Regions from separate parts of the Homo sapiens genome. Here region 1 is linked to region 2. Evidence: fine-mapped expression QTL. A gene starts in region 2. The other region holds a variant in brackets. All regions are shown on one strand. Distances are from middle to middle. Region 1 overlaps EIF3J (eukaryotic translation initiation factor 3 subunit J). Region 2 holds the start of SPG11 (SPG11 vesicle trafficking associated, spatacsin).

Region 1 (12,721 bases), 120 kb before region 2:
AGAACCAGCTAACTACTGGCCACATTGTTAGAAATAAAAAGAAAGCAAGATATAAAGTTTTCTGCTTTGCTTCTGATACTTAGTTGTGTTCAATTAGGGAAGCAAGTTTTAAAGTTAAAAAGCAGCCATCTCTTTCATAGAAATAGCTTAAATGATGGGTGTGTATCTGCAGGGCAAGAGTATAGATAAGCAAGTAGTTTATAAACAGGCCCTATTCTAAGAAGCTAGCCATTTTAGGAGAGCAGCCTGGGTGATTCTTTTGAAGATAAATTGGATATTATAGTTGAAAGATTAATTGGCTACCAAAAATAATTGGGTAAAGGATTTAATTGGATGTTCATAGGTAGTCTCTTGAACCAAATAACCATTTAGGGCTCTTTGAAGTGAGTTGTAGACTTGCTCCCTATTTTAAGTGTTAATTTTAGCTGTTTCTCTAGGAAGCCTTTTTACATTTTATCTGAATTTGCTGCTGGAATTTACAAACTTCTAATGTTTACAAAAAATTGGGCATATTTTTTGAAGCAGCGTGGTGAACATTCTACCTTAAATCTACTTTTCAGACACTTAATTTTATAACTATGGAAACAAAAACTCTAACTTCCTGGGGAAAGCTACCTGGCCTTTTGCTTTTATAATTACATCTGTTTGGAAGTGTGACCAGTCTCTTTTTGCTGACACTTACTATGCTCCTTTCTTTAGGGGCTTAGTGCTAGTTTGGTAGTAACTTCAGGGCAGACTTGTAAGCACTTTGGGGAGAGAGTGACAGTCAAGGTTTGGATGGTCCTTTTATGAATTGAGGAGCAGATGTCATGGCTCTTCTTGGTACATGTTGATAGGAACCACTTTTTTTTTTTTTTTTTGAGATGGAGTTTCGCTGTCTCCAGGCTGGAGGGCAGTGGCGCAGTCTCGGCTTACTGCAACCTCCGCCTCCTGGGTTCAAGCGATTCTCCTGCCTCAGCCTCCCAAGTAGCTGGGACTACAGGTGTGCGCCACCACACCCAGCTAATTTTTGTATTTTTAGTAGAGATGGGGTTTCACCATGTTGGCCAGGATGGTCTCGATCTCTTGACCTCGTGATCTGCCTGCCTTGGCCTCCCAAAGTGCTGGGATTACAGGCATGAGTCACCACGCCTGGCCAGAATCACTTCTTTTGCTACTAAAATCCATTCTGTGATGGAGTAGGGAATGTCTAGGTAGCTTCATTATGTCTGCATTGATGTGTGTCTGGGGTAAGGTTTATGCTTTGATGGGAGAAACTAGGGACAGGGATAGAGGTGGACATAGAGTTGGTGTGAATGTACTGAGGGAGCAGTGATATGGGTGGGGTGGGGGTTATGTTTTTCTGGGAAGGGTAACTGAAGAGCATCAACATTAAATAAAAATGCTCCTGTGTTGAGTTTGTTTCTTTACCTTGGAGGTATTGAGATGGAGCTCCTTATTTTCAGCCATACTTCTTCCTTCTTGACCTCTTACTACCAGAGGCTTGCAGACCAGTTTTTTTCTTTTTTCTTTTCTTTTCTTTTCTTTTTTTTTTTTTTAGACGGAGGCCTTCTCTATCACCCAGGCTGGAGTGCAGTGGCGTGATCTCGGCTCACTGCAACCTCTGCCTCCCGGGTTCAAAGTGATTCTTGGGCATCAGCCTCCCGAGTAGCTGGGACCACAGGTGCACACCACCACGCCCTGCTAATTTTTTTTGTATTTTTAGTAGAAACAGGGGTTTGCCATGTTGGCCAGGCTGGTCTTGAACTCCTGAACTCAGGTATTCCACCCACCTTGGCCTTCCAAAGTGTTGGGATTACAGGCGTGAGCCAACTCATCTGGCCCAGTTTCTTAAATTAGTAGAAAACTGGCCAGGCGTGGTGGCTCACACCTGTAATCCCAACACTTTGGGAGGCTGAGGTGGGTGGATCACCTGAGGTCGGGAGTTCAGGACCAGCCTGACCAACATGGAGAAACCCATCTCTACTAAAAATACAAAATTAGCCAGTTCGTGGTAGCACATGCCTGTAATCCCAGCCACTTGGGAGGCTGAGGCAGGAGAATCGCTTGAACCCAGGAGGCAGAGGTTGCGGTGAGCTGAGATCGTGCCATTGCACTCCAGCCTGGGCAATAAGAGCAAAACTCCATTTAAAAAAAAAAAAAAAAAAAAAGGTGGGAGGGGCCAGGCACGCCTGTAATCCCAGCACTTTGGGAGGCTGAGGTGGGTGGATCACGAGGTCAAGAGATCAAGATTATCCTGGCCAACATGGTGAAACCCGGTCTCTACTAAAAACACAAAAATTAGCTAGGCATGGTGGTGCATACCTGTAGTCCCAACTACTCAGGAGGCTGAGGCAGGAAAATTGCTTGAACCTAGGAGGCGGAGGTTGCAGTGAGCTGAGATTGCGCCACTGCACTCCAGCCTGGCGACACAGTGAGACTCCATCTCAAAAAAAAAAAAAAGATCAGTAGAGAACCACTACAGGCAATTTAAGGTGAGAAGTTTGGTAACCAGTATACCTCTAGCTGGGCATATCTTAATATGTGTAATAATCCTTCTCTTTATGAGATTCCCAGAGTTCCCAGGAGAGGGACTTAGTTCCCAGTTAGTTATTTTATACTTCAGGACTCAGGGAAGAAGTCATATTTACTATAATACTATTTTTATTTTTATTATTTTGCATTGGAATTGCATTGGAATTGCTTTATTCCAGCGAATTAAATTGTTTACCAGACTGTGAATTTTGTAAGCAAGTGTTTAAAACATGCTTTTTAAAGACCTTCCTTAACATTGTGTTTAAAGCCTTAAATGAAGCTGTTTACATGTATACATTTAAAGGATGTATCTCAGCATGTTACTCTAAAGATGTGTTGTAAGCTGCTTTATTACAGTGAATTGAACTCTACTAAACCGTGAACTTTGTAAGCAAGTGTTTAAAACATGCTTTTTAAAAAAGTAAATCATTTTATTTTCAATAAAAAGGTCAGTCAAATGTTTAGTTATTTAAAACTTTTTTAAAATTAGTTTTTATAATTGGCAAATAATGTACATATTTATGGGGTATATTGTGATGTTTCAATGCATGTATACATTGTAATTACCATTTCATCACTTTAAACATTTATCATTTCTTTGTGGTGTTAACATTCAAAATTTTCTTATGGAACTATCTTGAAATATATAACATTGTTATTAGCTATAATCACCGTACTGTGTAATAGAACACCAGAACTTATTCTTCTAACTGTAACTTTATACCTATGACACTTTAAAGAACTTTGGTCCATTCAGAGCAGGTCCCTTAGTTTTTCACTGAGATTGTGGGTTGGCTATGTCTGGGCCTGGGTTTCCTTTTCTTTAAAATGGGGGAATAACACTACCTTCTTACAGGACTGTTGTGAGAATTAACCTTGTTACTACACCTGTTTCTCAGAAGGGTTTTAAATATGCATCTTCTGGAAGTAAGCAAATGGTCCTCCTATCTGAAACACTGCCCCCTATCACTCACAGATCCAGCCTTCCTGTGTTCTGTGAAGATTTAAACAACAAAAAATGCCTAGTAATTCACTTTTATTTTTAGCTCTTTGGTTCCTTTTGTACTGTGATGTATAGCACTTAGCAAACTAACGGCGAAATACAAACGTTTGATCTCTAATTTCTAACTCTAGTATCACAGTTACTCAAATAATGACTAGCTGGTTTGCTTTCAATCTGTTAAAACTGCGAGCTGTGGGTTAAATTGCTGAAGTAAGATGAATATAAAAATACACTTACTTTTTAATACAAAGTTCCTTTAATTATGCTTGCAGACTGTATGACAGCCTTAATCAGGATGTTGAATTTTTAATTTCTTTACTGGAC[T/C]TAGAGATTTTTATTAAGAACCAAGGCTTGGTTAGTTTATATTCCTAGACTGATACAAATTTGTGATCTGTCGTGTTATGAAACCAGAAGCTTGGTGTCATATTGTGGCATATTAGTCATACTAGTCAGCCTTTGCTTCTTTAGTAGCATCAGGGCCTCTTGCCCTGCTTTTGCCATCTTGCCACTCAGCTTCAAATGGCATGTCATAGTGTGCCTGGTGGCTGCTGAGACAATGGCCAGGCTACCTATGATTAAAGCCATCTTTAATCATAGGGCTGTGTCTGTCCCTATTAAACTTGAGCCTTCTAAGTTCTGTGGAGCTTTTAGAAAATTGTGTTTGATAATTGGTTTATATTTAGCTCAATGATTGAGTTAGGCATAGAAAAAACAGAGTATAGATCTTTTTTTTTTTTTTTTTTTTTTTTTTTTGAGACAGAGTCTCTGTTGCCTAGGCTGGAGTGCAGTGGCTCGATCCTGGCTCACTGCAGCTTCGCCTCCTGTGCTCAAATGATTCTTGTTCCTCAGCATCCTGAGTGGCTAGGATTACGGGCGTGCACCACCATGCCCACCTAATTTTTGTATTTTTTAGTATAAACGGGGTTTCATCATGTTGGCCAGGCTGGTCTCGGAACTCCTGGTCTCAAGTGATCTGCCTGCCTCGGCCTCCCAAAGTGCTGGGATTAAAGTGCCCTGAGTTAGAGAGTGGGATCCATGAAGGCTTGATTAGCTGTTGACTTTTTTTTGTGAGACGGAGTTTCATTCTTGTTGCCCAGGCTGGAGTGCAATGGCGCGATCTCGGCTCACCACAGCCTCTGTCTCCTGGGTTCAAGCAATTTTCCTGCCTCAGCCTCCCGAGTAGCTGGGATTACAGGCATGTGCCACCACACCCAGCTAATTTTGTATTTTTAGTAGAGACGGGGTTTCTCCATGTTGGTCAGGCTGGTCTTGCATTCCCGACCTCAGGTGATCTGCCTGCCTTGGCCTCCCAAAGTGTTGGGATTACAGGCGTAAGCCGGCCTTGATTCTTTTTTTTTTTTTTTTTTTTTTTTGAGACGAAGTCTCGCCGCACTGTCACCTGGGCTGGAGTGCAGTGGCACAATCTTGGCTCACTGCAACCTCCCACTCCTGGGTTCAAGTGATTCTCCTGCCTCAGCCCCCAAGTAGTTGGGATTATAGGTGTCTGCCACCACGCCCAGCTAATTTTTTGTATTTTTAGTAGAGACAGGGTTTCACTATGTTGGCCAGGCTGGTCTCAAACTCCTGACCTCGTGATCCGCCCACCTCAGCCTCCCAAAGTGCTGGGATTACAGGCATGAGCCACGCACCCGGCCTGACTCCTTTTTAATAGTGGGCTTTAGAATTATATAGACTTAATTCATTAACCAGGCTTATGTTGTATGGAATACTACTTGAAATAAATGAGCTATTGGCCAGAGTATAGGATGCTTTTTACATTTGGGGGGAAGTAAGAACTATAAAGTTCTCTCAGTTTTTATTTATTAATAACTGAATCACTTTCAGAGAGGCTATTGATTTCAGCTAGGTTGTCCTAACTGCTAATGGAGAAGCTTTCTTATGAAGTTAGATAAGTTGATATGAGGGTTCATATGGAAAAACAAAACATGCAAGAAAGGCCAAGAAAACACTAAAAAATCTGAAAACCTACAAGGAAGGACTAGCTCTAGCTGACATTAAAGTAAAGCCTCTGTAATTAAAACAGTACCGGCTGGGCATGGTGGCTCACGCCTGCAATCCCAGCACTTTGGGAGGCTGAGGATCACCTGATGTCAGGAGTTCGAGACCAGCCTGGTCAACATGGAGAAACCCCGTCTCTACTAAAAATACAAAAATTAGCCCGGCATGATGGTGGACACCTGTAATCCCAGCTACTCCAGAGGCTGAGGCTGGAGAGTCACTTGAACCCAGGAGGCAGAGGTTGCAGTAAGCTGAGATCGCGCCATTGCACTCCAACCTGGGCGACAAGAGTGAAACTCCGTCTCAAAAAACAAGACCAAAAAAACCCAGTATGGTACCGTTATATGGAGAGACAGTAGACTAGTGGGATAGGATCAAAAGCCCAGAAATAGACCAAGTACATATGAAAATTTAGTATATGGTAAGTCACAAGGTATCTTAAAATGTTTTTTGCTGCAATAGAATGCAATAGACTGGGTATTGTATAAACAACAGATTTATTTCTTATGGTTATGGAGGCTGAGAAGTCCAGTATCAAGGTGCTGGCATCTGGCGAGGGCCTTCTTGCTCTATTATCCTGGGGCAGAAGGGCAAAAGAGCACAAAGGATTGCAGGAGGTGTCAGAACTCATCCTTTTATCAGATATCTACTCCTAATATAAAGGTATTAATAATTCATTCATGAGGGCTTTGCCTCTAATCATTTCTAAAAGACCCTACTTCTCAACACTGTTGGATTGGAGATTTCATCACATGAACTTTGGAGGACACATTCAAACCATAGCCCAGGGAAAAAAACCATTATTTATTAAAGGGTTTTTAATAAATGATGCTGTGACAACTGGGTAGCCATTTGGGAAAAAAATGAAATTAGATCCATGTTGCATATCATAACACAAGAAAAAAACTCCAAATCAGAGATCTAAATAAAAAAAAAAATGAAACCCTATACATTCTAGAAGAAATTGTGGGTGAATTCTTAGGTGTAAGAAAAGACTTTCTGGCTGGGCGAAGTGGCTCATGCCTGTACTCCCAGCACTTCGGGAGGCTGAGGTGGGCGGATCACCTGAGGTTGGGAGTTCGAGATCAGCCTGACCAACATGGACAAACCCCATCTCTACTAAAAATACAAAGTTAGCCAGGCATGGTGGTGCATGTCTAATCCCAGCTGCTTGGGAGGCTGAGGCAGGAGAATTGCTTGAACCCGGGAGGTGGAGGTTGTAGTGAGCCTAGATCATGCCATTGCACTCCAGCTTGGGCAACCAGAGCAAAACTCCAACTCAAAAACAAAACAAAACAAAACAAAACAACAAAAAAACAAGAAAAGACTTTCTAATTGACTTGAAATCCATCCAGAGGCAATGAAAGAAAAGACTGGGGCTAGGCACGGTGGCTCACGCCTGTAATTCCAGCACTTCGGGAAGCCGAGGCGGGCGGATCATGAGATCAGGAGTTCGAGACCAGTGTGACCAACATGGTGAAATCCTGTCTATACTAAAAATACAAAATTAGCCAGGCATGGTGGCATGTGCTGGTAATCCCAGCTACTCGGGAGGCTGAGGCAGGAGAATCACTTGAACCTGGGAGGCAGAGGTTGCAGTGAGCTGAGATCGTCCCTGTATTCCAGCCTGGGCGACAGAACGAGACTCCGTCTCAAAAAAAAAAAAAAAAAAAAAAAAAACCATTTCTACTAAAAATAAATGAGCCAGGCATGGTGGTGTATGCCTGTAATCCTAGTTACTGGGGAGGCTGAGGCAGGAGAATCGCTTGAACCTAGGAGGTGGAGGTTGCAGTGAGCTGAGATCGTGACATTGCACTCCAGCCTGGGCAAGAAACTCCGTCTCAAAAAAAAAAAAAAAGTCTGGTAAATTTTATTGCATAAATTTGTTGGGATGCATAGCAATTCATGGGGAAACAATAGAGGCATTTCCATCAAGAAAGCAAGGATGCCCATTACTTCTGCTGCTGTTCAACATTGCACTAGAGGTTTAGCTGGCCCAATTAGGTAAATCACTTGTGAGGGCCTAAGGATTGGTAGAGAAGTAAAGCTATCTTTTGTTTGCAGATAAGGTAGCATACCTGTAAAACCCTAGAGAAGCAACGATAAATCTAACTTAAGTGATAAATGAATTCAGTAAGGTAGCAGGATATTAACATATAAAAAAGCCAATAGTCATTTTTGTTTATTTGTTTTGAGACAGGGTTTTTATGATAGTGAGTTGCCTAGGATAGAGTGCAGTGGCACTATCATAGCTCACTGCAGCCTTAACCTCCTGGGCTCAAGTGATCTTCCCACCTTAGCCTCTCAAGTAGCTGAGACTACAGGCACATGCCACGTTGCCCAGTTAATTTTTTAATTTTTTTTTTTTTTGCAGAGACTGGGTCTTGCCGATAGGTTTTTATACACAAATAATAGCCACCTAGAGGACATAATAGGAAAACACCCTATTTATAATAGCAACATACAAGATGAAATACTTAGGAATAAATCTAAAGAGAAATGCGCAGAGCCTCTAATAGGGAAATCACTTTAAAACACTTCTGAAAGGTACAAAAATGTACTTGATCAAATGGAAAGACAGTTCTTATTCTTGGTTAGGGCAGCTCAGCATTATAAGATGTCAATTCCCCCTACATTAATTTATAAATTTAATGCAGTACAAAAAAATACCAACAAACATTTCTCTGGAGTTAGTCAAGTTGATAATAAAGTTCACATAGAAAAGCAAACATGCAAGAATTATTAATGGAAGTCCTTTTCTTTAGGATAACTGGGATGACGATGATGATGAAAAAAAAGAGGAAGCAGAAGTAAAACCAGGTGAGCCACTGGGGCGCCTCCATTTTTGTTTTTATGTCTTGCTGAGCATTTGTGACTTGTATTAAGACAAATGACAGAACGCTCACAAAATGGAACATTTTGGTATTTAGAAACCAAGTGTCCTTCCATTCCCACTTTATTCTGTTTTCCCTGCAACTTTTCTCTATCGCCTCAAAATATAATCAGATTAGATACTTGCTGTATTTCTGTATGAGTGCTTGTTAGTAGGAAAGGGTAGAGGTTCTGGCATTAATTATAGTTGAATGATCTAAGCCCTGCCTATAGGACGGTGGGGAAATATGAAGAGATATTTGGATCTTAGGGGTCACATTAGAGAGGAGAAGGAAGAGTCCCAGAAGTTTCCCATTATTTGTGAGAAAAATCACTGTTTGAAGCTGGGAAAGGTTTGGTCTCTTAATAGTATACAAGTATCATGTCTGTCTCATCCATAAACTGGAAAATACTCAGTATAACTGAATAAAACTTTTTTTTACTTTTAGAGGTAAAAATTTCAGAAAAGAAAAAAATAGCAGAGAAGATAAAAGAGAAAGAACGGCAACAGAAGAAAAGGCAAGAAGAAATTAAAAAGAGGGTAAATTCTGTTTTCTAAAATACAGAATTCTCACATCGGTAGTGGTATAGTTTCTAACAGGCTGCAAATATTACCTAGGAATTTGAAGGGCTCTGTGAAGACTGTAAATGGATACCATAAGATAGGTAAAATCCAAAACAAATTGATTTGTGGTTTTTGCAAAAACAGAACCCAGTTTTATATATGAGTGTCTTTTAAGTTTTCACAAACATTCAGGAATAGTCATGATAGTGCAGTGACTACAGTCAGTGATTTTTGCCAGTGCCTGTAGTTCATTCTAGTCAGCAGTATTAGTTTTTGTTGTTGTTTTTTGTTTTTTTTTTTTGGAGACGGAGTCTTGCTCTGTCGCTAGGCTGGAGTACAGTGGCACAATCTCGGCTCAGTGCAACCTCTGCCTCCCGAATTCAAGCCATTCCCCTGCCTCAGCCTCCTGAGTAGCTGGGACTACAGGAGCCACGGCGAGCTAATTTTTTGTATTTTAGTAGAGATAGGGTTTCACCATGTTGGCCAGGATGGTCTCAATCTCCTGACCTCGTGATCCACCCGCCTCGGCCTCCCAAAGTCCTGGGATTACAGGTGTGAGCCACCGCGTCTGGCCAGGATTAGTTTTTATTTGCAGTGTATATATTGAACATAATATAAAAATTGTTCATTTCTGTGCCATGTGCTATATAAATGTATTTGTTTTTGATTTTTTGGCACAGGATCAGAAATATATGCTTGTTTTTTTTTGTTTTTGTTTTTAGACAGAGTCTCACTCCGTTACCTAGGCTGGAGTGCAGTGGTGTGATTTTGGCTCACTGCAGCCTCCACTTCCCAGGTTCAAGCAATTGTCATGCCTCAGCATCCCAGGTTGGAATTACAGGCACACGCAACCATGCCTGGCTAATCTTTGTATTTTTAGTAGAGATGGGGTTTCGCCATGTTGGCCGGGCTGGTCTCAAACTCCTGACCTCAAGTGATCTGCCTGCTTCGACCTCCCAAAGTGCTGGGATTACAAGCATGAGCCACCACGTCCAGCCTATTTTCTATTTCTTTTCTTTTCTTTTTTTTTTTTTAGAGATGGAGTTTCACTCTAGTCGCCCAGGCGGGAGTGCAATGGCGTGATCTTGGCTCACTGCAACCTTCTCCCGGGTTCAAGTGATTCTCCTGCCTCAGTCTTCGAGTAGCTGGGACTGCAGGCATGTGCTACCATGCCCAGCTAATTTTGTATTATCAGTAGAGATGGCATTTCACCGTGTTGGCCAGGTTGGTCTCAAACTCCTGACCTCAGGTGATCCACCCGCCTTGGCCTCCCAGAGTGCTAGGATTATAGGCGTGAACCACTGTGCCTGGCCTATTTTCTATTTCAGAACACATTTACATGGTTCAAAAATTAAAACAGCCTGCGTGGTGGCTCATGCCTGTAATTGCAACGCTTTGGGAGGCTGAGGTGGGAGTATTGCTTGAGTCCATGGATTTGAGACCAGCCTGGACAACATAGGGAGACCCCGTCTCTACAAAAAATAGAAAAATAAGCTGGGCGTGGTGGTACATGCCTGTAGTATCAGCTGCTTGGGAGGCTAAGGTAGGAGAATCACTTGAGCCCAGGAAGTTGAGGCTGCAGTGAGCCATGACTGCGCCACTACACTCCAGCCTAGGTGACAGAGCAAGATCCTGCCTCAAAACAAAAAAAAAAAGAAGAAAACGGCCAGGCGTGGTGGCTCACGCCTGTAATCCTGGCACTTTGGGAGGCCGAGGCAGGCAGATCACAAGGTCAGGAGATCGAGACCATCCTGGCTAACACGGTGAAACCCCGTCTCTACTAAAAAATAGAAAAATTAGACGGGCGTGGTGGCGGGCGCCTGTAGTCCCAGCTACCTGGGAGGCTGAGGCAGGAGAATGGTGTGAACTCAGGAGGCGGAGCTTGCAGTGAGCGGAGATCGCACCACTGCACTCCAGCCCGGGCGACAGAGCGAGACTCCATCTCAAAAAAAAAAAAGAAAAAATAATTATATTCCAGTATAAAGAGAAGATAGATATACACTAAGCTGTCAACTGTCATGTCAGAGAAGTGGGTTTGGGAAACAAATGACATCTACTATTATATCTTTAAAATTTGTTATAGTGGTAATTTTATAATTATACAATATGATGAAAAGGGGAAATGTTTTGAACCATTCTGTTGGACATTTAGGTTGTCTGTAAATTTATTTGAAATTATGAATAATACTCTAATGTACATTCTTGGGCTTACATATTTGTGTGCATCTTATTTCTTAAGGTAAATACCTGGAAGTAGAATACTTGATTAAAGCATGTAAAAATATTATTTAAGACTTGATCCATATTACCAAGTTGCCCTAGAAAGGGTTTTCCAATATAGTTTTAGTAGCAGTGTATGAAAGTAATATTTTTACCTTGTCCACAGTCTCAATTCCTTTTTTTAAAAAAGGTTATAGAAGTAACCCCAGTCTTCCTGGGTACAAATCTGTCACGTTACCAGCTGTTACCTTCTATTTAGTTGTGGGCAGGTTGTTTCTTTGTGCCTCCATTGCTTATCTTTAAAATTGGGTTAAGGATACCTAAAGTGGACTGGGCGCAGTGGCTCACACCTGTAATCCCAACACTTTGGGAGGCTGAGATGGGCGGATCACTTGAGGCCAGGAGTTCAAGACCGGCCTGGCCAACATGGTGAAACCCCATCACTGCTAAAACTACAAAAATTAGCTGGATGTGGTGGTGCACGCCTGTAATCCCAGCTACTCGGGAGGCTGAGGTATGAGAATCACTTGAACCCAGGAGGCAGAGGTTACAATGAGCGAAGATCATGCCACTGTGCTCCAGCCTTGGTGGCAGAGTGAGGCTCTGTCTAAAAAAAAAAAAAAAAAAAAAAAAACTAAAGTGTTTAGAAGAATGCCTGAAACAGTAATTACCAGTGTTCACTTTTATTTGTTATTATATACGCTTATTTAAGAATTCGTACAATACAGAAAGGTACTGAGTGCATCATAATCCCTGTGCTTTTTAAAAACTTTTGTCTCATTTTAGTTAGAAGAACCCGAAGAACCTAAAGTGCTAACACCAGAAGAACAATTAGCAGATAAACTGCGGCTAAAGAAATTACAGGAAGAGTCAGACCTCGAATTAGCAAAGGAAACTTTTGGTAAGACGGGATTATGATTGCAATACAGTATTAAACTGTTACAGGTGAAGACCCAGAAAGTTCAGAAAACATCTCCTTTTCTTAAAAGAAACATACTGGCTAATGTAGATATTAGAAAGCAGTTTTTAATCTCTGTGTATATTTGAGATTTCATTACATGTTCAGATTTTTGAATAATTGTTTTGAGTAAAAGATTATTAAGATAAGTCATTTATAGCAATGCAAGAAGGGCAAAAAGGAGTAGACTCAGATGAAGTACACTACTGCATAGAATATTTTTATCAGCTGGATGAAATTTGCATGAAATGTGAGGTCTGTAGCTTTGAAATGGACTGTAGGGCTGTCCTGTTGTCTTAAGACTTAGACAGTAGGATGTTGCTCCAGGTGAGAGGCATGCAGCTTTTGCTGTGCCTTCTTGTGCTCAGTGTCATTTCCTTCTGCAACCCTTCTTTGCCCTTACCATGCCCTATCTTTAGAGGGCCTCCATTTCTTTGTGCGGTGTCTGCAGCTGTGGTTAGTGCGTGAGATAAAAGTGCAGGATCCTATAAATAGATAAATTCAGAGTGTTCCAGAGTAAGAGACATGGCTAGAGAAATAGTCAAAGCCCTCGCTTCATTTAACCAAGTTA
Region 2 (11,024 bases):
CCAAGAGCGAGCAGTTTGGGCTTTTCAGTTGGTGTGCTGCTGTTACGAGAATCCTCCCATAGAAAGCTAAGAAAAAAAGTTTAGATTTATTATATTCTATATCCGCAATAATATTTACCCACAATGGTGGGGGTAGAAGGGTTGAATAAGTAGAGAACAGTTTAGTTGACCTGGTATAGTCATTCTACACTTCAATCTAAGAGAACATAAACTGCTCTAGGACCTCCCTCCTCTTCCCGCTTCCCTTTTACACCAACACGAAAATACAGGAGTGGGTGGTAAAAAACAAAAATGTGGGGCTCAGAGCAAGAAATGATGGCTCCATTTATTCTTTCATCTTTAATCCCAACTAGTATGTTTAAACAAACTGTCATGATCAAGGGTAGGTATCAACAACAAAATATGTATATTATTTATATGAGGTGGTATTCACAATAAAATAGGCTTTTGATAACTTAAATGTTTTGACTTTTAAAAGAAAGTGATTATTTGTATTTATAGACTGACGATTCCAAATCTTGAAAAACTCTGCCTAATAGAACCTTCCGTGATGGAAATGTTTTATATTAGCATTGCCCAATACAGTAGTCAATAGCCACATGCAGCTACTGAACACTTGAAATGTGGGGCAACTGAGGAACCAAATTTTTTACTTTAACAGCCACATGTAGCTAATGACTACCATTACTAAACGGTAGAGTTACGGAATTCTTAAACTGAAATGTCAAAATAACAACACTGGCAAGACTGATGGTGTTTCAGCTTCAAATTAAATATTAAAACTAAATTACACATTACAAATAAAAGCCCCAGATTTGAAAATAACACAATGAAAGAGGTGAGGCTATACCATGCTGATAAAATTTCATCTTTTAAGAAACTTGCTTCTACAGAAGTAGTGTTTTATACTTCTAGAGTAGTATATAAAACTACTGTGGTACATACATGATTTAATTCAATTAGTAATAAAACTAATAAGAGTACATAATAGTATTATGTACTATTATGTATTTTATACTACTATAGTAGTTTTATACTATTATAGTATTAATATGTCCTTATTAGGTAAAAAAAAGACATTTTTCTGACTGTTCATATTGATAAATGTAGAAAATAACCTAAATGTCAAATATACAAAAGGTTAAACTAAGATATACTTAAAAGGTAGAGTACATCATTAGCATAGGGACAATATTGCCACATGGAAAGACAGGAAATTTTCAATGCAATAAACAAGATATATGATGTAATTTCAACAATATTAAAAAGACCTATGTACTTTGAAAAAGTAGGAAGTAAACTCTAAATACTATAAACATGCCCTTATTTTTAACCTATGAAGTATTTTAACTGAATTAAAATTCAATTCAACTAAAAAAGTTAAAAAGTCCTTTCTTGGTCCTCCTCCCCTCTAATTTCATGAACTAGCATATGAACGCCCCCTTTATTTCATCTCGGTCTTACCTTCCCTGCTGGGTTCTCAAACACCTAAAGATTTCGGCTTTTCTTTGCCCCATTCCTCTCTTTACAGAGCCACATTCATAGGTACTTGATACTGCTAAATAAACTAATTTCCCCTAAACTAGTTTATAAATAACTTAGTTTATAATAAGTTTATAAACTAAACGCAGAGATTCCTCTTTCGAGCAACTAGACATCAAGGGTAGAGAAGACAAACCCAGAAGAGTTAAGCATTCACTGATGTATCAAATGAATCTCTAAATGTCAGGAGCTGTTAGAGGAGCTGGAGATTCCAAGATTAATAAGACACCTTTTGGCTACTCATCTTAAAGAAAGAGTTGTGAAAATACTTACTATTAATAATTATTAAAAGAACAGGTCAGGCTCAGTGGCTCACACCTGTAATCCCAACACTTTGGCAGGGAGAGGCGGGATCACTTGAGCCCAGGAGCTTGAGACTAGCCTAGGCAACACAGTGAGACCTCATCTCTACAAAAACTAGAAAAATTAGCCAGGCCTGGTGGTGCACGCCTGTAGTCGTAGCTGCTGGGGAGGCTGAGCCCGGGAGGTCAAGGCTGGCTGCCGTGAACCGTGACTGAGCCACTACACTCCAGCCTGGGCGACAGCGACCTTATCTTTAAAAAAAAAAAAAAAAAAAAAAAAGCAGCAGCCCACTCAAAACACTAAGAGGGCGTTCCCAAACTTTATGATGTAAACTCTTAAGTACTGAACCAAGAGTTACGGAAGTACAAAGTAATGCATTATTGTAATCATGTTTGTCTTCCCCAAACATGCGCGCCTCGCAAGAAAGAAGTGTCTTACTCAACTTTTTAGGCACTGCTCCTATGTAACAGCAAGCACACAATATTTGCTGAATAAATGAAGGGACAAACTGGACTCTGTCCTTGAAGAAGAGGACTACATGTGAAAGAAAACGCTATTCACTTCAAGGACATGAAAAAAGTATCAGGATGATTCAAATTAGAGATGATCCTCAGCTGGCATCTTTAACTGAAAGAAATGGGCATGGGACTCGACCCTGTGACAGTTAATCAACCTGTGTTGAATAATGAAAGAATCAGCGCCTCAGCTGAGACCCGTTCCGGGTTCGCCGCAGGTGGCAATGGAGCTGGGTGCCGTCTCCGCCCACCCGGAACAGGAGAGCTGGGCTGCCAGAATGCAACGAGGCGAGCGTTTCAGGTCGGGGGAAAGGTTCTGTGAGGAAACCACGCTCGCCTCTGGGGCGTTTCCTGCAGCTGGCACCCTTCTCCCGCCACCTCTATGGCTGCAGGGAGGCCTCGGCGTGAGCCCTTGGGGCTCAGTCAGCCGAGCCTAGGCTCTGGACTCCCCCAACGGCCCAACTCTCCCTCAGCACTTACTGCCAGAAGGGGCCCTCCAGGCAGCAGCGACCCCCGCCCCGGCTGCCAGGCGTCAAAGAAAGCACTTGGAGGCTGCCCGCAGCCGTCAGGCTCCCCAGAGCCTCCGGCTGTGTGCGCAGCTGCGCCCGGGAGCCGAGCTGCCCCATCGCCTCGGCGGGGACTGGCACCAACAGCATCGGTAGAACCCGCCCCATGGCCGCGGTGCCCCAGCTACCGCCGGCGGAAGCAGCACTCGCGACCCCTTCCTCTGCAGCCATCTTGGCCCGGCGGTTACTTCCGGTCACTTTCGCCGGAACCTGACTGCGTCGTGGGCATGCGCGGTGTACGTAGCGGCTCCCGCTCGGCCTCGTGACTCCCGCGGAGACCTCTCGGCTGTCTCCGGTCGATTCCATTCGTTTCCTGTGGGGGGCAGTACCAGCCTCTCTAGCAAAGCCACATCTGCCCTGACGCCAGTCCCACTCTGCTTAACTGCTCTGGCATGCTTGAAGGCCTAGCTTAGCGTAGCAGGCCGTTGCAGCCGTTCTCGCTCTGTGGCATTGCTCTTTGCCTTCTTGGTCCAGCTGCCTCCAGCTCCCTTGGAACCCAGTTCCTGCCTCTTTTCTTCGCTTTTCTTATTGTGCTGTTCGCTTACAGGCTCTGGGGTGGTGCCATTTCCTTGGTAGCATGGACCGTCTTACAGTGTGGATCCATAGTAAGGGTGTTGACCCGAAATTTGAAGTCAAATAATATCCATTGTAACAGTCAGAGAGACGGGGTAAGTAAGGGGTGGAGATGGTAGAGAGCTCCTGTCTGTTTTCTCAGGGAAGTATGATCCAAGATCAAGAGAAGGAGAGGAGCAAAGAGTTTGAGGTGAGAAGAGGGGTTGAATAGGTATTTTGGTAAAGTCTCCTAAAAGACAACTGTACCTTCTTAACACATCTTCCACATTCAGAACATTTCAGCATAAATGTAACCTCTATTGACAGGCCTCCCCAAGCCATTCAACCTAAGGTCCCTTCTACTGCAGTCTCTCACCTAGTTTTGTTTTTAATCATAGTATTTATCACTACTTGATATTTTCTGCCAGTTCCTGTCCAATAAGAATGTAAACTTCAAAAGAGCAAGGACTTTGTTGCTCACCACTGTCCTGGCTAGTACCTAAAACAGTGCATGTTTCATGAAAGGTACTCCCGCATTTGTTGATCAATGCATGACCTTATTTGTCAAAATAAAAGCAAACTTTTTTTTTCTTTTGAGATGGAGTCTCGCTTTGTCACTCAGGCTGGAGTGCAGTGGCGGGATCTCGGCTCACTGCAACCTCCGCCTCCTGGGCTCAAGCAATTCTGCCTCAGCCTTCCCAGTAGCTGGGATTACAGGCGCACGCCACACCCAGCTAAATTTTTGTATTTTAGTAGAGACGGGGTTTCACCATGTTGGCCAGGCTGGTTTCGAATTCCTGACCTCCGGTGATTTACCTGTCCCAGCCTGGAAGTGCTAAGATTACAGACGTGAGCCACCGTGCCCAGCTGAAACCAAACGTTTTCTATCACAAGGGAGATATATTCAACCTTCTAAGCTTAGCTGGGGCTGTGTTCTTTCTGTAAAAAATGGCAACGTTAAAGCAATTTCTAAGGTTACACTTGTGTTAGCTACAACAAAGCCTTGTCCCTTATAATCAGGACAGTCTTCTCATGCCTGTAAATCCCAGCACTTTGGGAGGCCAAGTTGGGAGGATCACTGGAGCCCACCCTTGCCAACATAGGGAGACCCTTGTCTCTACAAAAAAAATCAAAAAAAATTTTTTTTGAGAGTTTTGCTCTTGTTGTCCAGGCTGGAGTGCAATGGCACAGTCTTGGCTCACTGCAACCTCTAACCTCTGCCTCCTGGGTTCAAGCGATTCCCCTGCCTCAGCCTCCGAGTAGCTGGGATTACAGGCGTGTGCCACCATGCCTGGCTGATTTTGTATTTTTAGTAGAGACGCGGTTTCTTCACGTTGGTCAGGCTGTTCTCAAACTCCCGACCCTCAGGTGATCTGCCCACCTCGGCCTCCCAGAGTGCTGGGATTACAGGCATGAGCCACTGCACCTGGCCAAAAAAAATTTTTTTTTAATATTAGCTGGGTGTGGTGTCACATGCCTATAATCCAAGCTACTCAGAAGACTGAGGTGGGAGGATCACTTGAGCCTGGAGGTCAATGCTGCAGTAAGCCATGATGGTGGCACTGCACTCCCACATGGGTGACAGAGTAAGACCCTGTCTCAAAAAAAAAAAAAAAAAAAAAAAGAAAAAGGACATTCCTGGAGCACTCACACATAGGATAGCCTTCATTACAGGTTTTAACTTACAAGCAAGTTCCAACACATCATTCTATTATCTCTTTAATTATACCTTATTATGCCATGTCTTATTTTTAGGCACATCATTTAGATTTTTGAAGAAAGGATATGAAAATGGGGAAGGGTTCTCCAATATATAAAGGCATAAGAAATGTCTTCAGACTCTCTGGATCCCTGTAAACATAGTCTATGTAGCTAGTGTCTGATGATTCAACTTCCCACATACACGTATTCCAGAACAAACAGATCAGTAAATCCAGGCAAACCTATAAAGAGAACAGATATTAACTGCAAGCACAATTCTACTTTGCAAGTATTTATATGATTTAATTAGTATCTGACTCTTTCTAGCAGTAATTCTGAGGACAGAGATGACCATGTTATTCATGCTTATATCCTAGAATAGTTGTCCCTCAAGTATTTCTTGAATGAATAATTCAGGTTCTTAAATTAATTCTTGCCCTCAAATAGGTTAGCACTATAAATGACCAAAGCACCTGGAATAAAAGGTTGGCTGAAGACTTAGTCAAGAATGGTTACTCAGTAAATGTCAGTGTGTAGAACCACTTCTAAAAACACATGATCCTTCATGCTCATAATTTAGAAGAAGGAAGTAGTGAAGCAAGTAACAGAACATAGATTGGGCTTGAACAAGGGGCTTTGACCTTGTTTCTGCCATTACTTACTCCATCCTGGCCTCCAGCTGCTGAACCAATTGTTTGTCCACGTGGTGACAGAACAGGGGAAGTAGGTTGCTGGGGAAAGCTAGGGGTTCTGCCAGAGAGGCTGTAGGCATTTGGGCTATCTCCCAGGCAATCAGAACCACCATGTCTGTCCTAGAGAGCATAAATATAAATATAAGCAAATAGATTTGCTTAAGAAACAGACTCAGGGCCAAGGTTTCTTATTATCTTTCCGTTACTACTACCATTGTCCCCCACCCCCAGGTAGCAATTCAGAGGTAACATTTGCATGTTTGGTACGTGCCAAGCAATGCTTAGTGCTTTACACATTTCCCTTCCTATTTAATCTTAAGAACTATGAGGGGTTAATACCATCATCCCTAGTTTGTAGATAAAGAAACAAACTAAGAGAAGTGAGAAGTGAAAGAACTTGCCCTAAAGTTATATTGCTAGTAAGTGATACAGCCAGAATTCAAACGTAGGTCTTTTTAAAATCTAAAGCTTGTCCCCTTAGGTACTATGTTATACTGCCTCCTAGAAGAAACCGAAACTCTAGGGCACTATAGAAAAAAAGCAGAACAGCTACAACACTGCTACTACTTTCTCTATCCAACCTCTTCCTCAGTACTTGAAAATGCCTCAGGAAATACTTCACCTGGCTCAGTCTGCACATCCCGAGGGTACTAGATAGTATTTACAAGGCCTTTATGATCTTACCAAGCTGTATGGTCACTGTTGGGTTCCTCTAGGGAAGAATGCAGCGATACCAGTTGCTCCCCATGGCTCAGCAGGGCATAGAGCAAAGATATTCCAAACTGCAAGGGACATATATATATTCCAGAGCAAAATGAGTTCACACTCGGCATTTGGTGCTTTCCTGACTCTTATCTTCCCAACTAAAGGACAGGTTCACATTTAGAGATAGAGCTCAAAATATCCACAAGTGCTGTCAGGTTTTACACTGGTGAGCCAAAGAACTCTCTAACCCTTTCCATAGGAATCACTGCTCTGAACTTTTCCAAAAGACACTCTTGGAGAGCTGATTAAATGCATACTTCTAGGCTTAACTCCTAGGAGTAGGAGATCGGGAATGCATCCAGGAATCTGAGGCAGGTAGTCTGTGGACCCCACTTTAAGAGGCACTTCTTTAAGCAAAGACCTTCAGTATGGCATACATGAGATAACCCACTGGGATATTAGAAGAGAGCATCAAAATTTTCACATCTAGAGTCTCATTCTTTAAAATTTTCTGTCTTTTATTATATACCTATTGGCTGGGCGCAGTGGCTCATGCCTGTAATTCCAGCACTTTGGGAGGCCGAGGCAGGCGAATCACTTAAAGTTAGGAGTTCAAGACCAGCCTGGCCAACATGGTGAAACCATGTCTCTACTAAAAATACAAAAATTAGCTGGGTGTGTTGGCGAACACTTGTAATCCCAGCTACTTGGGAGGCTGAGGCAGGAGAATGGCGTGAACCCAGGAGGCAGAGCTTGCAGTGAGCCAAGATCGTGCCACTGTACTCCAGCCTGGGTGACAGAGCGAGACTATCTAAAAAATAAAAAAAGAAAATATTTATTATGTACCTATTATTACTAGTGTTACATGTATTTGATTTATAAACACATGGGTAGTGTGGTTTAGAATATTTTTTTACTGAAAGGGGTATACAAGAGTTTGGAGACCTGCTTTAGAGACTCACATCAGCAGCAATCAGGGAGCTTATTAGAAAAGCAGAGCAGGTGCATGGGCCCCACCCCAGACCTACTGAATGACTGAGTGGGACCAAGGAGCTGGGTTTAATAAGCTTCCAGGTGATCATGTGCTTACTAGAAATAGAGAAGCACTGCAGAGGATAAGATTTGTGTAGAGATGAGACTGTCCCCCAACTTACCCCTTATCAGTGATACCAACCTGAAAGCCATCTATGGAAAAAAGCCTCCTAGACATGTTACCTGATTCTGAAGCACCACGGTGACTGGCCGCTCTGAGGAGCCAGGTGGCAACAGCGTTAATCCCTGAAGTCCTTGGAGGAGTTCGTGGAGGGTCAAGTGACTAATACATTTGCCCAGAGGTTTGAATAACATTTGTAGGGCCTGCAAGAAGATCAGTAAGCACCTCCCAAATTCCACTACAACTTCACCTCCCCTTACCTTGCTTCCACAGTCCCTTCCCTCGCTGACCTGTCTTTGGCACGTCCTGGTGAGGTTACTTACCAGGCTTATCACCACTATGACTCTCCATCCCCAACACTGACACCTTCGGTACCTACTTGTCCTAGGAATCCTTCTCTAAGAAAAGTAGATAGGGGCTCAACATTTATCAGGGCGTCCTAATCTTTTACTCAGACCTCCTCAGCACACTGACACCTGTGCAACCATACACCTGTTGCTTTTTGTTCGTCATACCTGAAGATGATCCACTGTTCCTATAATAGTTCTGTAACTTCCTTGCCTGAGGGTGGCAAGGCCAGCATCCCTCGCTGTGCCCAGCACCTTCTCTGGCATCTCTGGGGCATGTGGGGACTGGAGGGGAGGAATGACCCCTAACCTATTCAGGAGACCATCCTCTTCTCCACTCAATGCCACAGTACCTGATCAGCCACATCCCTCCGGACCAGGAGGGGCAGATGGTGGGTGATAGCCAAAAGAATGGTAACAGCCTGATCCTGGGGCAGGAAGGGGAGCAGCCGGGCCACCAGGGCCTTCCCCTTCCTCACAGAGAGCACCTGCAGGAAGCCATCTGCTGCCTCTCTGCAAGGGAGAGAGGAGAACATTTTCAGAGCTCTGCATAGAGGAGAGGGCTACATGCCACAAAGGAGAGGCAGAAGCAAGACCAGTGTCTTTGCTGCTCCTTCCCTTCCTGGGCTGAGGTGGAACCCTCCCACACTCACTCCAGGTTGTTCTGCTCCTGGGTCTTTAAGGTCTGGAAGAGCTTCTCAACCTGGTTGCTTTGCTGCTCAGAAAAGCAGGGCGGTGGAGGCCTATACTTCCAGCCTTCCTCTATTTCTAGTAACTGAAGGAACATCTGGGAATTTGAGGGTGGAAAAAAGAGGTAAATTTGGGTAATATCTCATTCTCAAAGGTAGGTTTGGAACTCGTCCCTAAGGAACTGATATCTCACCTTCTCAATCCGGTATAATACCCGAAGCCTCTGACTGCTTGCAGCTTCTATATCCTAGGAGAAGGGAGTCACCAGCTATCAGCTACACTGCCACTGCCACAGCCCTAGCCCAGGCCCCCAACTAGCTAGAGATTGAGCTGGAAAGGCTAGAAACAAAGTCTGATCACACTTCTTCCTCCTTCTTCGGTCACAGTCTTAAACACAAGAATGTTCTAGACCCTTCTTCCAAAGGGGAGAGAAAAATGTCTGGGAAGATAGTGCTCCCACCTGCTCTTGAGTTCCATGGGGTACCGCATCAATAGCTCGGCGAGGGCTGAAGCATGTCGACACAGCTACCTGGCCCAGGGAACCCTCGATTCGGACCACTGCATGAGAAGAGAGGCACATTTCCTTCCCCCTCCCACACTCTGTCCACCCAGATGCCCAGCCCAAGTCAGCAGGTCAGCCCTGACCCTACCGGACTCATAAGCCTCTGCCTTCGGAATGTAAGGCGTTACCAGCTTGAGGGACTCAACCCGGTTTCTTCGTCCAAGTAGCTCTTCGTCTGCCTGCTTCTTCTCTAGCTTCTGGTAATATTCCTGAGAATGCACGGAATAGGAAACAAAAAAACAAAACACCTTATATTCATCTTTTGAATTTAGAATTAAGTTTCTCAAGTGCAGCCTCTTAAGTTTAGTTTTTTTGTGTGTGTTATAAGTTTTGTTGTTTGAGACAGCATCTCCCTCTGTCACCCAGCTGGAGTGCAGTGGCGCAATCTCTGGCTCACTGCAACCTCCCTGGCTCAAGTGATCCTCCCACTTCAGCCTCCTCAGTAGCTGGGGCCACAGGCACGTGCCACCATGCCCAGCTAATTTTTGTATTTTTTGTAGAGGTGGGATTTCACCATGTTGCTCAGGCTGGTCTTGAACTCCTGGACTCAAGCAATCAGCCCTCCTTGGCCTCCCAAAGTGCTGGGATTACAGGCGAGCCATTGTGCCCAGACAAGCACGGCCTCTTAACACTCTTTCCTACAACAATCATTCCAGAAATGATGCTGGCACCTTAGGCCCTCCTTGCAGTTATTCTAAAGTGTCTTAAGCACCCTGGGCCCCACATCACCCATCTTGGAATTCACATACCAAATACTTAAAGACCAGATACCACCACCAAGTCTGATGAAAGGTCAGAGAGCAAAGTGGAGAGCCAGTGAGCAAACCTGTTCCAGCGTCTGTAACCTTCCTGCATTCCTCATGCTCTAGTACCCACACACTGCATACCACCTGTCCTCCCCACTTCCCCATTTAATCTTGTGATCTCACCTGTGCTTTCTAAAAATCAGTTATCTGATGGTATGAAGGCCATCCAGAGGTTTAAGCACAGAACTAGCTATAGGGAAGTGTTTGTCAGTTGCCCTCTAGGCCAGTTTTATACTTCTGTGGATTTGCTCAGCAGCTCTGACATTTTCTTAAAGTTGAGAAATCCTAAACTAAAATCCACTGACAAGCCAAACAAGGATTTGAAAAAGGCTCTTTTGTTTAGAAGCAATGCCAAAAAGGCAAGAATACAAAACTATTTCACTTTCAGTGACCCTCGCAGAAAAAGGAGGGCTTTTGAAGCTTGGTGGAAAGAAAGGAAAAATACCTAATGTAAATGAGAAGGCAATAAGGATGGGGCACTGGATGGGAGGCTCCCAGATGTTGAGGTGAAAGTGAAACAGCCAGCCGGGCGCGGTTGCTCATGCCTGTAATCTCAGCACTTGGGAGGCCGAGGCGGGTGGATCACTTGAGGTCAGAAGTTCAAGACCAGCCTATCCAACATGGTGAAACCCCATCTCTACTAAAAATACAAAAATTAGCTGCGTATGGTGGTGCATGCCTGTGATCCCAGGTACTTGGGAGGCTGAGGCAGGAGAATCACCTGAACCCTGGAGGTGGAGGTGGCAGTGAGCTGAGATGGTGCCACTGCACTTCAGCCTGGATGACAGAGGGAGACTCTGTCTCAAAAAAAAAAAAAGAAAAAGAAAGATAACAGCCTAGACAACCCAAAAACTTGTGGATAAAGACTTGCCCCATAAATAAAGGCAGAA

What was found. PIP is the estimated chance that this variant, and not a neighbour inherited with it, causes the effect.
Region 1: its variant is fine-mapped to the expression of SPG11 in whole blood (TOPMed, PIP 0.93).

Annotation. Positions count from the first base shown.
Region 1 is chr15:44,542,575-44,555,295 of GRCh38, forward strand. EIF3J (eukaryotic translation initiation factor 3 subunit J) reads left to right here. Exons shown (of 8, transcript NM_003758.4): 3 at 8,302-8,356; 4 at 8,857-8,948; 5 at 11,979-12,093. Among named protein-coding and RNA genes, the nearest start is that of EIF3J, 12 kb to the left of the region's middle. The variant T/C (reference allele first, on the strand shown) is at 3,842.
Region 2 is chr15:44,660,551-44,671,574 of GRCh38, forward strand. SPG11 (SPG11 vesicle trafficking associated, spatacsin) reads right to left here and starts at 3,112. Exons shown (of 40, transcript NM_025137.4): 1 at 2,841-3,112; 2 at 1-66. The coding sequence starts at 3,097. It overlaps PATL2 (PAT1 homolog 2), which reads right to left. Exons shown (of 18, transcript NM_001387263.1): 10 at 9,417-9,537; 11 at 9,227-9,324; 12 at 8,960-9,013; 13 at 8,730-8,863; 14 at 8,430-8,589; 15 at 7,792-7,932; 16 at 6,556-6,653; 17 at 5,842-5,991; 18 at 5,182-5,421. The coding sequence ends at 5,403. RefSeq lists enhancers at 2,207-2,346, 2,456-3,412, 2,887-3,366, 3,407-3,576, 6,439-6,538.